Regions from separate parts of the Homo sapiens genome. Here region 1 is linked to region 2. Evidence: fine-mapped expression QTL. A gene starts in region 2. The other region holds a variant in brackets. All regions are shown on one strand. Distances are from middle to middle. Region 1 has its middle 51 kb from the start of RANBP9. Region 2 holds the start of RANBP9 (RAN binding protein 9).

What was found.
Region 1: its variant is fine-mapped to the expression of RANBP9 in aorta (GTEx, PIP above 0.99).

Annotation. Positions count from the first base shown.
Region 1 is chr6:13,758,733-13,767,067 of GRCh38, forward strand. No RefSeq gene overlaps it. Among named protein-coding and RNA genes, the nearest start is that of RANBP9, 51 kb to the left of the region's middle. RefSeq lists a silencer at 6,456-6,555. The variant C/G (reference allele first, on the strand shown) is at 4,119.
Region 2 is chr6:13,706,595-13,714,929 of GRCh38, forward strand. It overlaps RANBP9 (RAN binding protein 9), which reads right to left and starts at 5,241. Exons shown (of 14, transcript NM_005493.3): 1 at 4,341-5,241. The coding sequence starts at 4,911. LOC124901264 (a long non-coding RNA gene) reads right to left here and starts at 6,160. Exons shown (of 2, transcript XR_007059462.1): 1 at 6,089-6,160; 2 at 5,758-5,947. RefSeq lists silencers at 4,186-4,305, 4,566-4,615, 4,696-4,815, 4,976-5,745.

The sequences.
Region 1 (8,335 bases), 52 kb after region 2:
ACAAGCTTCCCCGTGTCAGTAAATGGTGACACCAGCCTTTTAGTTACTCCAGAGAGACACTGGTGTTGTCCTCATTTTTTTCTCCTTCTCACACCCCAAATCCAATTCATCAGCAAATCCTATTGGCTCTGTCTTCAAAATATATCCAGAATCCAACAACTGTTCACACCCGCCACCAGCTACACACTGGTCTCCTTTTTCATGGAGGACTACAGGCACCCCCTAGTGAGCCTGCGTGCTTCCCCCTCGCCCGTCTGCGGTCTATTCCACACAGCTGCCAGCGTGATCAGGTTAACCCAGAAGCCAGACTTTAGCATTCCTCTGTCATACCCTTCGATGGCTCCCCACCTCATGAGGAAGAGAAGGCCATGTCTTTACCATGGCCCACAGTGGCTCCCCCAGTCTGGCTCCTGGACACCTCCCTGAGCTCATCTTCTGTCCCTGCCTCCTGGCTCAAGCTCCAATCCCACCAGCAGGTGCTGCCTAGAGCGTCCTTCAGGAGCTGAGGCGTGCTCCTGGCTGCCACCCCTCGGATGCTGAGGTGGCCTTGGCTGGAGAGCGCTGTCCCCCTCAACACCCTATCTCACTCCCTTCTCAACGTAGCCAGTATCCAGTGGCTGAATGGTTTGGAGGTGTAAAGGCCTGTCCCCTCTCCCCAGCTCAGAGCAGCTCTGAAGGGCCATCCTATCTTCAACATCCCCATGGGGTTGTCTGGGGCTTTAGTTGAGACTGCATCACAGCTCATCCCCCTCTGCCCAGTCTTGCTTCCTGCCCCTCTTTCCCTTCCATGGTTTGATCCCAAGAGCACTTCCTAGTAAGCATCATATGTGTGCCAACCATCATCTCAGACACTGCTTTCCCTGACCTGTGAACCTGATCTCTTTGCTATACCAAAACACCCCAAGTACCCTTGATCTCAAAGCTTCTGCGGTAAGTGTTCCTTCCGCCCGCAAAGCTCTTCTCCCAGGTATTCAGGAAGTTTACCCTCTCCCTTCCTTCAAGTCTCTGCTCAAATGTCCCATGGCCTGTGGCCTTCCCTCACTACCTTATGTAAAATAGCAAACACCACCACCGTCACCAGCACGACGAACTCCATTATGCAGCTTTTTTCCCTATAGTATTTAACCTAATTAGATATATATTTCCTTGTTTATTCATCTTCTCTCACTATACTCCAGTTTCACGAAGGCAGATACTTGATCTACTTTGTTCATGGCTACTTCCATAATAACTAGAATAGTGCCTGCCACATAGTAGAGGCTTAGTACCGAGTCAGGCTGGTGCTGGTCTTGCTGTGACCTGATTCCAGTAATTGGCTCACCACCATAGCCCCTGTGATGAAAGTTTCGCCTTGAAGCTTTTCATCTTGACCCCTTTGATACCTTTGATTCTGTGTCAATGCCATCATGGCTTCCTTTATATCCTCCACAACTAAAGGCCCACCTGTGTTTTCCTCAGTCTTTCTAAAGTCCTACCCTGTGGCTTAGTCCCTCCATACCTGCCCTTAAGCTGGAGGAACCCCACCTCTCAGGCTCCAGGTGCACTTGTGTGGTGGATTACCGAAACTCTCCCACTCCAAGTCCCCATTCTCATCAACGTCCCTCCAGGGTCTGGCCAGGCTCCCTAAAAGCCCTGTCCAAACTATGAGCCACACCTTGACCTTCAGCATCAAAGAGGGCTTTACTGCAGGGGAGGAAGCTCCCATAAGAGCCAGAACGACCTGGGTGTGAGTCCCAGCTCTGGCATGTACCAGTGGGGCAGCCTTGGCAGGTCACTCACTTCCCTGAGCAATGGCTTACTCCCTGGTAAAGTTAAGTCAATGATGTCAGCCTCGCAGAGTGGCTGTGCAACAAGACATGAACATGTATGAAAACAGTCAGTAAATTTCTCCCGACTGAACTGAAATCCTCTGAAGCACCTGCCCTGTTGTGTTAAATGGAAAAGTGTGGTGTCCTTAGGAAGAAACTCTGACACTAGGTAGCTCTATGTGCAAAAGAATTTGCTGTGGGAAACCTTTCAGTACAACATGAAGTTCCATGATAATTCCAAACATATGTGAACGATATATAAGCTGTGTAGCAAAATCATATTGTCAGCCAAGTATACTAGGTCTAGGCATGATCTCAAGGATGGGAAAAGTTTGGCTTCACCTCTGAAAGGTAACCCTCAACCAAGAGGTAGCACAAAAGCATAATCGGTGGATGCGTTTCCCTCCCCCATCCATGCCTTGCCCAGATTTAATGGAAACATTTATACTAAACCTTGCCAAATTCACAGAAGTTTTTCCAGTTCCCATTACTTTGCTATTCAAAAGGAAGGGAGTAATCGCTTCAGAGGTAGGGTGTGGTACAGTACACTTAACAGAGTGCTGAAAGCAAGTTCAACACAGATGACCAATGTTGCCAGATTGCACAATTCTCGAGTTATTTTCGTGATGGGCAATGTTTTTCCTTTTTATTCCGTTTTCCTCCCTCTGGAGTTGGCTAATGATTTCCAGTGAATAGAACTCTGTCCAGTACAATCCAGTTAGCCCACAATGAACAGACTGTCAATGAGAGATGCTGCATTGACAGCCTTTATTTTAGTGGGCTCCCCGTATAGTAAAGATGGAAAAGGAACTGCTGTTGGGGGCATTCATTTGTAATTTGTGCTCTTGGTCTGGAAGTGGGCCATTAGCTCAGCAAAGATAATACAGAAACATACAATAAGGTCACCACTCTTTCTGAAGCCTGATCCATCATCTCTTGGAGAATCAATACCTGTATAGACACGTTATGAATGTGTTTAGTCTTTTCCTACGTGACCAGGTAGGAAGCTTCCTGGTCCAACCTGGGTGGGTGCTTCATGTTGGCTTGGCAGGTAGTGTCAGGCATCTGGAGATACAATACACATGTTTAGCTCCCTGCAATCAGCAGGCTGGTACATTCACTACCAGCTGCATTTTCTCTGTGATACTGCCGGAAAGAATGTGCTTAAAGTCACTATTGATTACTCTTTAATCCACACTATGTTAGGAGCAAAATTGAATCCGACAAGACATGGTATCTCTTTTCCACATACTTTGTGCATTCCAATAAAGAGGGCTGTCCTTGAGAGTATGAAGTGTGTATCCAAGAAGCCAGGCAGATTCCTTCGTATTCAGCCCACGGATTGTTCAGAGATTCCCAATTTCCTCCTGGGGAGTTGGGTGCAGGAGTCAAGAGAGATATTTGAGTCAGGGAATATTTCCCAAGAGGAGCCTTAGTATTTAAACATCCATTTTCTTTCTTTCTTTCTCTTTCTTTCTTTCTTTCTTTCTTTCTTTCTTTCTTTCCTTTCTTTCTTTCTTTCTTTCTTTCTTTCTTTCTTTCTTTCTCTTTCTCTCTTTCTTTCTTTTTTTTTTTTTTTGAGACAGAGTTTCACTCTTGTTCCCAGGCTGTAGTGCAATGGGCGTGATCTCAGCTCACTGCAACCTCCACCTCCTGGGTTCAAGCGATTCTCCTGTCTCAGCCTCCTGAGTAGCTGGGATTACAGGCGCCCGACAACAGGCCCGGCTAATTTTTGTATTTTTAATAGAGACGGGGTTTCACCATGGTGGTCAGGCTGGTCTTGAACTCCTGACCCCAGGTGATCCGCCTGCCTCAGCCCCCCAAAGTGCTGGGATTACAGGCGTGAGCCACCACGCCTGGCCCAGTTTTCATTTTTAAAAAATCTATTACATGCTCATGATAAAAAAAATTAAGCAGTGCACAGTGAAGAGTATACCCCCCTCACAGCATTCCCCCCTGCAGTTCCCATCCCCCCAGGCAACTACTGTTATGAATTTTTTTGTGTATCCTTCCAGAAAGAGTCTATGCATATAAGAGCAGCTTTGATTTTTGAGATGCATTTTTGTATGTTCAGTTCAAGTGGTTCACAAGATGCCTTTTCCAAATAACTCCATGGCAACGCAACTCTGGAACTCACACGCACATGGATGTATACATGGACACACACAGTCGTTCTTTTGAGCATAAAATGGAGGGGAAATGATGCAACAGAGAGTGAATAGAAGGCATATTCCAGTAAACCACAGTGGTTAGTGGCTTCTCAGATGGTTCCAGACAGCTTTTTATACAGAAATAGCTCAGTGAGAACAC[C/G]CCAGCCTACTCAGACTGCAGAACAAATCCCAGGAACTTGCTTTTGTGCAATCTCCCCCTTGAAGCTCAAGTCTAAACACATCAGAGCTTGGCAGGGCTGCATGGGTACATTAGCGAACAGACAGAACACCCTGGCTCCTCAGGCGCTCCTTGTTTTTTTCCCTCTGGACCAGCAGATTTTTCTTACAGCTTACACCTGCTCCTCCCCGACCCCCAACAACATGCAGAAAAGGAAAGCCCCTCAAGTTTTCCTTGATCAAGAGGTTAAATAAAAAAACAACTCTCTTTCACACTCTAAGGGAAAGGAAAATAAAAACCACCAGTAGCTAAGACACACACACACACACACACACACACACAAACACACACACACATTTGGCAGAAATAAATTAAGAAAAATCATTCTATGTATGAGACCATTCTGAAACTAAGTGATGCATGATATTATGCAAATTTGCAAGGTGTATTTGTCCTCAGAATAGAGATGGCTGAATGGGAGTGATAGTGTCTTGATAAATTGTTGTTCTAGAAATTTTCCAGAACTGAAATGTGCAACAGGACATTTGAGAACTATCTTTTATCTAAATACTGATGTATTAATAATATAGCAGTATTAAAAGCACTGTCATAATTATTAGTAAAATTAGCTCATCTATAAGAGTCTGAATAAAAATGTCTCATCAAAAGCCAAATTCTAATGTAGGAGCCACATGGAAACCAATAGAAAAGAAACATTTCCACTGCATAGGCTGATATACTTGAAAATACAGGTCTTACTCCTGGTCAAAGAAATAGTTGTTTATACAGTTTTGAGGATACTGACAAGATCACTCTTAAGAAAATACTGCCTCACCTTCTGGCTAGTGCCTGAAAATCCTTTTCTAGTTGAGAAAACCTTAAATTCCTCAATAACAGATAAAGTATAATAGGCAAATTCCCCTGAAAAGAACAGCAATAATAATAATAATGCTAATTTCCTGAGCACTTACTTGTGGTAAATACGTTACTTTCGTTCTTACTCAGGACTCCACATGAATGATCTCCTTTAATCCCTGCAGAAGCTAATTTCCAAGATGGCTTCCTATAGCCCTTGCCTCTGCATATTCATGCCCTTCTGTGGGGGCTTTCCCTTCAATCTGAGTGGGCCCTGTGACTCTTTCGTAATCAACAGAATGAGGCAGAAGTGGTACCGTGTGGCCTTTGCAAGGCTAAATCAGGCCTTACAGCTTCTGCCTTGGTCCCTTAGGATGCTCATTCTGAGAAAGTCAACTGCTAAATACAAAATCCAATTATCCTGAAACCACCATGTTGTAAGGAAGCTCAAGCTAGCCATGTGGAGTAGCTGAGTGGAGAAAGAGATGCCTGGCCAGCCCTCAGCTATTCTAGCCAGATGTGTGAATGTAGAAGCCATCTTGGACATCCAGCTCCTTGTAGCTTGTGGATGGTTTGGGGCCCACCCAACTTCTGAGAATAGCTACATGTGAGACCCCAAGTGAAAACAGCCCAACTGGGCCCGGCCAACACACAGAATCATCAGAAATAGTAAAAAATTGCTATTTTAAGTCACTAAGTTTGGGGGTATTTTGTTACACAGCAATATGCAACTGAAACAATCCCGTATTTATGCTACAAGGTTTTTCGTTGTTGTTTTGTTTTGTTTTTCCAAGACATAGCCTTGCTCTGTCACCCAGGCTGAAGTGCAGTGGCACGATCTCAGCTCACTGCAACCTCTGCCTCCTGGGTTCAAGCAATTCTCCTGCCTCAGTACAGGTGTGTGCCACCATGCCCAGCTAATTTTTGTATTTTTAGTAGAGACAGGGTTTCACCATGTTGGCAAGGCTGGTCTCGAATTTCTGACCTTGTGATCCGCCTGCCTCGGCCTCCCAAAGTGCTGGGATTACAGGCGTGAGCCACCGCACCCGGCCTGTTTTTTTTCTTTTCTTTGTTTTTTTTTTGAGATGGAGTCTTGCTCTGTTGCCCAGGCTAGAGTGCAGTGGCGCAATCTCAGCTCACTGCAACCTCCGCCTCCCGAGTTCAAGTGATTCTCCTGCCTCAGCCTCCTGAGTAGCTGGGATTACAGGTGTGTGCCACCACACCCGGCTAAATTTTTCTGTATTTTTAGTAGAGCCAGGGTTTCACCATGTTGGCCAGGCTGGTCTTGAACCCCTGACCTCAAGTGATCCGCCTGCCTCGGCCTCCCAATGTGCTGGGATTACAGGCGTGAGCCACTGTGCCCAGCCTGCTACAAGGTTTTGAAGCTCACAATTAACTCTCCAACATCAATTTTACTGCTTCCTCGCTGTGCCATTTGAGGAACTGACCCCAGTCTACAGGTTCCCCTGATTAGTTTATGCTAGTAGCTCTCAAAGTGTGGTAGCATCATTGTCACCTGAGAACTTGTTAGGCAAATTCTCGGGCCCTTCTCTGGACCTACTGAATTCAAAACTCGGGCCAGCTGGGCGTGGTGACTCATGCCTGTAATCCCAGGACTTTGGGAGGCTGAGGCAGGCGGATCACAAGTGCAGGAGATCGAGACCATCCTGGCTAACATGGTGAAACCCCATCTCTACTAAAAAAAATAAAAATAAAATAAAAATAAAATTAAAAAAGCCAGGCATGGTGGCAGGCGCCTGTAATCCCAGCTACTCTGGAGGCTGAGGCAGGAGAATGGCTTGAACCTGGGAGGCGGAGGTTACAGTGAGCCAAGATCATGCCACTGCACTCCAGCCTGGGCGACAGAGCAAGACTCCGCCTCAAAAAAAAAAAAAAAAACAAAAAAAACAAAAAAAACAACTCCAGCTGAGGCCATCATCTGTGGGGTCTGATACATCCTTCAGGTTATTCTGATGCGTGCTCATGTTTGGGAACCACAGGTGTCTGTACCAGTCACGGTAATCCTATCCCTCCTTGCTAGTGACAACGAAAATGAGTGATGGAGGAATAAGTCTCGAATCATTGCGGTTTAGCAAGGCAGCTTAAAGGGAGTGCCCAGGAAAAATGCGAGTCACAGAAGCATCTGTGGCTGTTTTTTCCAAAGAGGGTCTCAGGAGGTTTAGCATTTATACATTTTCCTGAAGAAAGTGGGGCAGGGCATGAGACAAATGATTACATACTTGTGAGACTTTAGTTGGTGCTCATTTTTCCTAAGATAAGGTGAACATTTGAAGAAAAAGGGAATAGAGGAAGAAGATGTCTGAGGAGGGGTGAAGGTGTCTTTGTTCTGTACCTGGAAAGATAAACTAGTAGTCTTTTGAAAGGGCTGGTTTCTGTTTAGCCCTGAGGGAAGAAAACCTAATAGCTGTTATAGAGGTAGGGGGTATAATGAGGCGTGTCCAATCTCCCATCCCCTCATGGCCGTGAATTCAGCTTGCAAGATTCCCTTGGCCAAGAAGGGGTCTGTTCAGTCAGTTAGGGGCTTGGAATTTCATTTTTATTTCTTACTCGTGATTGACTTAGGAATCTAGGCTCAAGCCAATCAGCACATAGCATTCCCTTGATGTCAGTTATTAGTTTGTGGTTAAGGGAGTGGCCCTGTGTCTTTGTGGCAGCCATTCTGACTATGAAGGGAGCCAGGCTTAAAAGGCAGCTGACACTGAGGATGGAAAGCAGAGATGCAGAAAGAACCTAGGTCCTTGACACCAGGGTTCAATCAGCCTGTCCCATCTGTGAACTTCCAGTTACATAGGCCAATACATTTCCTTTTTGGTTAAACTCATTTGAGTTGGCTTTTCCGTTAGTTGCCGCTGAAAGCACGCTACCAGATACAGTAAGCATTATAATCCCTACTTTTACACAGGAGAGATTAGTTCAGACAACTAGGAAGCAGATGCGCTAGGATTTTTTTTTTTTTTTTAAGACAGAGTCTTGCGCTGTCACCCAGGCTGCAGTGCAGTGGCACGATCTCAGCTCACTGCAACCTCGGCCTCCTGGGTTCAAGCGATTCTTCTGCTTCAGACACCTAAGTAGCTGGGACTACAGGTGCACACCACCGCACCTGGCTAATTTTATGTATTTTTAGTAGAGACGGGGTTTCACCATGTTGGCCAGGCTGGTCTGGAACTCCTGACCTCAAGTGATCCTCCCACCTCAGCCTCCCAAAGTGCTGGAATTAGAGGCATGAGCCACTGTAGCCGGCCCATGCTAGGATTTGAATCCAGGTCTCTGTTGTTAAATCCCACTTTTATAATGAAGCCATCAATGGTGAGATTTGTCCCTTT
Region 2 (8,335 bases):
AGGCAGAAGAATTGCTTGAACCCGGGAGGCGGAGGTTGCAGTGAGCCAAGATGGCGCCACTGTACTCCAGCCTGACAACAGCAGAGCGAGACTCCATCTTAAAAAAAAAAAAAAAGGACAATTCAGGCCAGGCGCAGTGGCTCATGCCTGTAATCCCGGCATTTTGGGAGGCCGAGGCGGGCAGATCATCTGAGGTCAGGAGTTCAAGACCAGCCTGGCCAACATGGTGAAACCCCGTCTCTACTAGAAATACAAGAATTAGCCGGACGTGGTGCTAAGCGCCTGTAATCCCAGCTACTCAGCTACTCAGGAGGCTGAGGCAGAAGAACTGCATGAACCCAGGAGAGGCTGCAATGAGTAGAGATTGTACCACCGCACTCCAGCCTGGACGATAGAGCAAGACTCTGTCTCAAAAAAAAAAAAAAAAAATGCAATTCACTATTTATTTACTTATTTTTTTTTTAAGATAGGGTCTCACTCTGTCACCCAGGCCATCATAGCTCACTGAAGCCTCAACCTCCTGGGCTCAACCAATCCTCCTCCCTCAGCCTCCTAAGTGGCTGGGATTTCAAGTGTGTGCCACTTAGCCCGGTTAATTTTTAGGGGTAGAGACGGGGTCCCACTATGTTGCCCAGGCTGGTCTAGAACTCTTGGGCTCAAGCGATCCTTCTACTTTGGCCTCCCAAAGTGCTGGGATTACAGGCGTAAGCCACCACACCCACTGAAATTGACTATTTCATTGCTTCCTATAATTCCCAACTTTGACTTACCTTGGATTTCTTCTAAACTGTTCTAAATTAGTAAAATCAAGGTGTCTGGACTTTTCTGAAGCACTGTGTTCCAGTTACCTTTTTCCCCCAGAGTAAGTATTTTCAATCTCAACTATTCTTTAAAAGTTCTAAATGTGATCACAGGATTTTATCTACTTGAGATAATTAAGTCTCATATGAACTTAAAGAGGCAATACTATGGGATTGTGAAAAGAACACTAAATCTGGAGTTAGTGAAAATTTTCAATCCTGATTTACTCATGACTGGGAAGATCTAACCTCCAGGTTCTACCACTCTCTAAAATTTAAAATGAAAATTCCAGGATCTTGTCCAGATCCACTAGTGTGTGTATATATAAAGCACTCTATAAAATATCCAAATAGTGGTAATAACTAGAAAAATATAAAAATGCAATCTGTTGTTGAAACATTTAAACTAAGTCCATTGTCATATTTATTAAAATTATTTTCCCGTTATCATTATAACTAAGTCTAAACTTGTCACATTTGTACTTATTCAATACTGACAACAATTTCAAAAATAAGAGGGGCTATCCCTGGGTTTTTCAATAGTTGTTGTGTGACTGCTAAGCAAAAGGCCTTTAAAAAAATTTCACATATACTATACATACCCTGTTGTTCCTCTGCAATCCAATCAACCTTATCTGCATGTCTAGTATTATCTAACATTAATCTCTTCAAATCATTTCAGGAACAATACTGCTTCCAAAAGCAGTAATTTCAATTTAGAAGAACATCTTAAAAACAGAATACAGGCTGGACACAGTGGCTCAGGCTTGTAATTCCAGTACTTTGGGATGCCAAGGTGGGAGGATCACTGGAGCCCAAACATTCAACACTAGCCTAGGCAACACAGTAAGACCCCATCTCCACAAAAAAAAAAATTACAACTTAGCCCAGCATAGTGACAGGAGCCTGTGGTCCCAGCTACTTGGGAGATGGAGGCAGGGGGATCCCTTGAGCCTAGGAGGTCTAGACTGCAGTGAGCCATGATCGCACCACTGCACTCCATCAAGGCAACAAAGTTGAAATCCTATCACACACACATACACAAAAACACCAGAACAACAACAAAAAACCAGAATACCTTTGGAGCAAAAGAAAGCAAAATACTTCTATTTCAAAGATAAGGAAAATTCTCGTCACTCTGGAAAATAATTAAAATCATTCTTTTGAAATTCTGTAATACGTGAATATATGAATAGTAGTTTTTACTGTTAAAAGTGTCTCATGATACTTAGGTAAAACCAATGCAGCACAATGATAGGTTAAATAAAAATTCACTCTTCTTATTCTGTGATTTTAAAGTATTATCTACTCTCTATGATACTTCTCCTTTGCTACTGCTACTGCTACTGGGACACAGTTGCCCACCACAATCGGCGTGGTCCTCTCACAAAACACGCAGAAAATCAACAGTAACAACGGAAAACTCACACACACACACACACACACACACACAGTCTACAGTAACAAGACAAGAGGAAGAGGCAGTAGAAAGGGAAAAAGACTTTCTGACAAGGGGTAAGAGAGAGACAAAGGAAAGATAGAAGAGAGGAAAAATAAAAGGATAACAACAAAATCTGTTCTTCCAGAAATAATGATTTATGTTTATAAAACAGTTATGTTCCCAGAAAGTGAACCTTAGTATTACACAACAGAAAGTAATAAAGAGGCCAAGAATAAAAACAACTGAGACAGCAGTGTCAGAAATATTCCAAACTCCAACTAATTTCATATAAACGTGTATTTTTCTCTGACCTAATCATCAATTTTATGTAAAAGACTAAAACTAATCAAGACACCTTACAGTACTAAATAAACAGTAATCACGAATCTTAGACATCACGGAAATTCAGAGCTGGAAATTTCCTTACCAATCGTCCAGCTCAACTTACACACCACTCAGAGGAAGAAACTGAGGCTCAGTCTTGTAAAATATCTACAACCACAAACAACTGCAGAACTCAGGAAATCTAGAATTCTTTGTTCATCTACACTGGCTCTGACTTTATGAGCAAATTATTTACTGTCAACCATAAATTTAAAATTATAAAATTCTGTCACATCTAACAATAGCTTTCTGGCAGCCAGATCAGAAGTAAACACCTCATAACATAGCACCGTTCACACAAATTAAAACATAAAAGTAGAAATACTTCACAAGGAAATTAACAAAAGGTCCTAACTTGAGAAAAAACAAAGATTTGATATTGTGAATGAAACGTTCAGACGTTTAGATTAAGGAGGATAACACTTGGAAGTACTTCTTTGGATGTATGGCGAGAATAAAAAGAATGTTCAACAAGGCCTATTTTTGTGCGTGATTCTTTGCAGCCAAATCATTTGGTAGATTTCTATTGCCATTCGCCTTTCTGATTAAATAGTAACTTACTTATCAAGCTTCTTCTCAAATTTCAGTCCCGTATAAGTTAAGAATTTAACCACAAGGTTGTTTATCTCCTCTACATACATGTCACTAGGATCTGAGTAGACCCCTTTACAGCCAATCAAAGTGAGGCTGCCGTGAATGTAAAAGCTTCTGCTTTAGGTTTGGGGCCTAAAACCCTGGATTTGTTTCCAGACAAGACTGATACGTTAGGTTGATTTTTTTTTCTTCCACACAAGTAAACTTGATACATGCTATTAAATTGGGCTACATTTCAATAGTTCCCATAGCAATTCATAATTTTATATACAACTGATTTGCTTCCAGCTTTGTTTTAACCTAGGAGAGGTAGGTGAGGGAGGAAAGGGGCAAGCACAAGCCTAAGGTTGTTGTTTTTAACTGCAAGTGCAAAACATAAGCCAATTTTCTTCAAAATACTAAGCTGCATTTTGTTCCATCTTCGTTTTCAACAAGACTTCATGTGATATCAACACCTAAGGACCTGTATAGGGCACTTCCAATCGGGAGGGGTAGGTTTCTGCTCCCCTAAGAAAAAGGGTGTTCCTGGGGTTCCCTTCTCTTACCCTCCCGGTTGCTTTTACTAAAATATATTGATGGCAAACTTGGGCCCCTTGTCCTTTTGTCCCCCTAGACAATCTCTGGCCTAATTTTGATTACTCCTCCCCCTGTGTATCCCTGCTCTCTCTTAATTAGAAATCATACCTCAGAATCGTGCCTCTCTTCCCCCCTTGTAAGAGGAGAACGCCTGACCCACCACCTGGAGAACAATGTAACCCAACTCCGAGTCCATGGATTCCTCTACCCAAGCCCCAAGATTTATCTCCCAGGGAAATCAGAAAGCCAGTTCTGTCCTGTCATCCCGGATTCCCTCAAGGTGTCCTGCTCCTGGTCTAGGATTACCAGCTCCTTTCTACCCTGGGGCATTCTACTCACCTTCCTTTTCCAAGAATCTCGCCCCTCACCCTCGGACCCTTCACCGCGACCCCCGCGCCCACCCGGAGCAGCACAACAGGCGGCGAGTGGCCTCCGAGGGCAGAGCCCGCGAGGGCGGGGGTCGGGGGCGGGTCGAGAGCGGCGCAGCGGCGGCCGGCCACGTCGGGTCAGTGCCCCACTCCCACCGCAGGACACACGCCCAGTACCTTTGTAGTGCACCCGCAGGTTGTTCTGAGAGAGGCCGATGTAGCTGAACTTGTCCTTCGGGCTCCAGGACCGAGGCAGCGGCGTCTCTTGTTCGTCCACGGCCGGGTAGAGACGCTTCAGCCGCCGCTGCAACTCCTTCTCCTGCTCGTTCAGGGCCGAGTCCCCGTGAGGGAAGGGGGCCGCGGCGCTGCTGCCCGCCACCAGAGCTGGGGTCGGGGCTCCTCCAGCCGGGCCGGGGCCCGCTGCAAGGCCCGGGGGAGCGGGCGGCCCGCTGGCGGGGGCAGCCGCTGAGGCAGGGGGAGGCGGGGGCGGCGGCGGGGGCGGCGGGGCCGCGGTGGCCGGGGGCGGCGGCGGCGGAGGGTGGAGGAGCAGGGCGGCCGCCGCGGCCCCTAAGCCTTCGCCGCCCGCACCGCCGCCGGGCGAGCCGGCCGGAGAAGAGCCGGCGCTGACGGCCGGGGGCGCCGGCAGGACGACTCCGGAGACTGGGGCCAAGGCCGCCGGCGGTGGCGGCGACAGCTGCTGCTGCTGTTGCTGCTGCTGCGGCGGCGGCGGCGGCGGCTGCCCGGACATCCCGGCCGCGACTCAGCCTGCGGCCACCTCCACCTCTTCTCTCCTTCCTCCTCTGCTTCCCGGGGGCGCTGTCGCTGCGGCCGCCGGCACCAGGCGCCCAGTCCGCCCGCCCCGGAAGCAGGCGGCGGGCCGCGCGCCCAGGGAGACCGCGGCGGTTGAGGAGCTCGGAGACGCGGGAGTAGGCGGCGGGCCCGGGAGGCCGGGAGAGAACGTTGGCCGGAGCGCGGGCGCGCGGCCCGGGGACGAGGCGCCGAGGGCGGGGGCGACGCGGGAGCGCGGGAGGGGAAGGCGCGCTGGCGGCCGCCGCGGCCGCTGCTCTCGCGGCTGTTTCCCGGCGGGCGGGCCGGGCCGGCGCGAGACGCTGCGCGCGGGCGGCGCTAGGCGAGGGGGCGGGACGGAGGCGCGAGAGAGGCGCGAGCGGTGCGAGGGGGCGGGCCGCGGGGCTCCCGGCTGTGCGCCGCGAGGCGTCCTCCCGGGCCCGCCAGTCGCTCGTGGGCAGGATCGCTGGGCTCCCGGCGCCGCAGGTCCCTTCGGAGGTGTCCGCCTCCTCTCCCTTGGCGGCCGCCGTCGCCCCCCTCGCCGGCGAATCCCCTCCCACTTGACTTCTTTTTGTTGTCGTCGCCCCACCTCCCCACCGTAGGGCTCCTCGGAGCCGAGGCGCCGCTTCTCGTCCAGGCGAGAGTAATCGAGCCCCGCTGGGGCCGCCGCGAGCCCAGGCCCCGGGGCGCTCTAGGACCCGTCGGCCCGGGGCGTGCGGAGCGGCTCAGGCTCCCCGCGCAGTGCTGCTAGCTCTCGCCTCAGTCCCGTTCCCGTTTGCCGCCTCCCTCCAAAGAGGAACGCATTGCCTTTGGTACTTCAGTGTTTAATTCCGTAGCATTGACCATATGGGCAGTAGAAACCACTTCTGAAGGCAGTCTCCCACTTAGAATAGTGACTGTTTCATTAATTAATTTTACGAGGACTCACAGTGAACTTAACAGTGGTAGAAGATGTCATTAATAAAGACCGGCATATCTTCAAAAAGCAGGAGCAGGCACTGTATGAATACAAGATTATAGTGTGTGTTTAGGAAGGGCTTCTAGAGACGTCAGAACATTTTATAGACTCGTTAATTTTCATAACAGGGTTCTTAGGTAACAGAAAATTATGCCCATTTTTAAAACAAGGAAATATTTACCGAGATCAGCAGAGTCAAAAATAGGACTTCCTACTTTGCAATTCCCAATAGAATGCTTCGTCGACTAATTTGGCACAACTTGCCAAGTGTTGCTCTCTGACCCATCATAACATTACTACTTTGTTTTCACCACTTCCCTTTGTTTAGCTTATCCCTCCCTAGCTGGCAAAATCAGGCTTTGCATATGTAAATTGTGTGATGTAAATTCTGATATTTTGTTTGCTTCCAAAGATATGATGGTAATCATTTGGTCAAATAAGAAATGTTTTGCCGAAGAGAAAATTATTTCGTTTTGAAGAAGGTAGGCCAAAGGTGATTTAATTTAAGGCCAAGATTATCTGGCCAGAACAAATAACAGAGTCATTCGGCCTAATTTCTCCCTCAGTTACCCAGACAACTAGATGTTCTGTTGTACTTTTATTATTATTATTATTATTGTTTTGTCGCCCAGGCTGGAGTGCAGTTGTGTGGTCTCAGCTCACTACAACTTCCGCCTCCCGGGTTCAAGCGATTCTCCTGCCTCAGCCTCCCAAGTAGCTGGGACTACAGGCATGTGCTCACACCCAGCTAATTTTTGTACTTGTAGTGGAGACGGGGTTTCACCATGTTGGCCAGGCTGGTCTCGAACTCCCGACCTCAAGTGATCTACCCGCCTCAGCCTCCCAAAGTGCTGGGATTACAGGCGTGAGCCACCATGCCTGGCCTCTGTTGTAGTTTGATAGAAATATCCATTAATTTTAACCTGTTGTTTGATGACTTTTTTTAAACCACTGCACTTTGAATCACATGATGTCACTGTATTTACAGTGTTCTAACACTTTCATTTATATTACAGTAACAATGAGTTCAATGTAAGCCAAGCTCTATTTAAATGTACGATAGCCATGTTAGAATAAATGGGCTCCAGACGTCATTAAACTTTCTTGAAACACTTTTGAAGATGTACTTTTTTTCTGTCAGCACACTTAGGAACTATCTAGAACTTTCCGTATCTTAGGAACAGCTGAAGGAATAGAATTGTCTAACATTTTGTTGGAAGCATTTTATAAGGGGGACTGGTGGTTCTCCATCAAGAAATTAATGATTTCAGTTGTGGGGGAGGATGCTGTGAAATGAGTACTTTCTCATATAGAAGGAGATAGAGAACATTGATAACGTCCTTTTGGAAAGCTACATACTTGGTTATATTTATAAGGAGACATAAAGGAGTTCATACCTTTTGACTTATCTATCAAAAAGCCAAACAACACAATCTAAATATGAAAATACTTTAGGCTGAAAAATGTTCCACAAGAAGTATTAATGGTAGATTAAATATAGAAGCAAATCAAATGCCCAACCGGAAGAGACTAGAAGAAATTCTAGTCACATGTGAAATTCTAATCACATACCCCACTCAGTGGAGTTATGCTACAGGAGCACATATAGCACATTCGTGCCATTTTTTTTTAAGGTATCCCTTCTGGGCAGTGGAAGTGCCAAAAGAGGTCAACCAATTAGAAAAAGGCACCCCTTCCTCTTGACTTAGTGGATCCTGGGCCCACCTTCAGACCCACTCTCTCCAGGCTTCTTGCACAGGCACAGCCTGAAACAAATATTTTATGGCCTCTTAAAAATATGTTATTGAAGACATAGAAAAATGATTATGATATGCTAAATGAAAAGAGGCAATACGATAATTATAGCACTGCCAAAATCATTACCAAAAAGACATGAAGGAAAAATTGTAAAATGTTTCCATAATGGACAATTATAATGCATTATTAAAAGTAATGTACTTTTATTATGAAAATAATAGAATTGTACATAGATATGTAAATAGTAAAAATCCATTAGCCATGAACATATCCACACCCTTCTTGAACCTATGTTTTCAGTCTTTACCATGTATTGCTCTAATATTACCCAGTATCTGTATCTGCTGGGTTTCTCAGTATCGAACAATAGGAACCAATTCTGGCTCTCTTAAGCAAAAAAGGAACTTACTGGAAAGATATTAGATGGTTCTCAGAATTGACCAGAAGGCTGGACAAGCAGGCCTGAAAACTGACAATGGCCAAAGGAGGAGAGGCTGCATAAATAGACTGGCCTGGACCCCAGCACTGATCACAGAAATCACTGCCAGATGTCACCTTCAACACCTGGACTCTTATCTCTCTGACCTCCAGCCTTTACACCACTCACTCAAGTTTCAAAGTCACCAAGCCTAGATTGTGTGCCCATGCCAGAATACACCAGCAAGCAGAG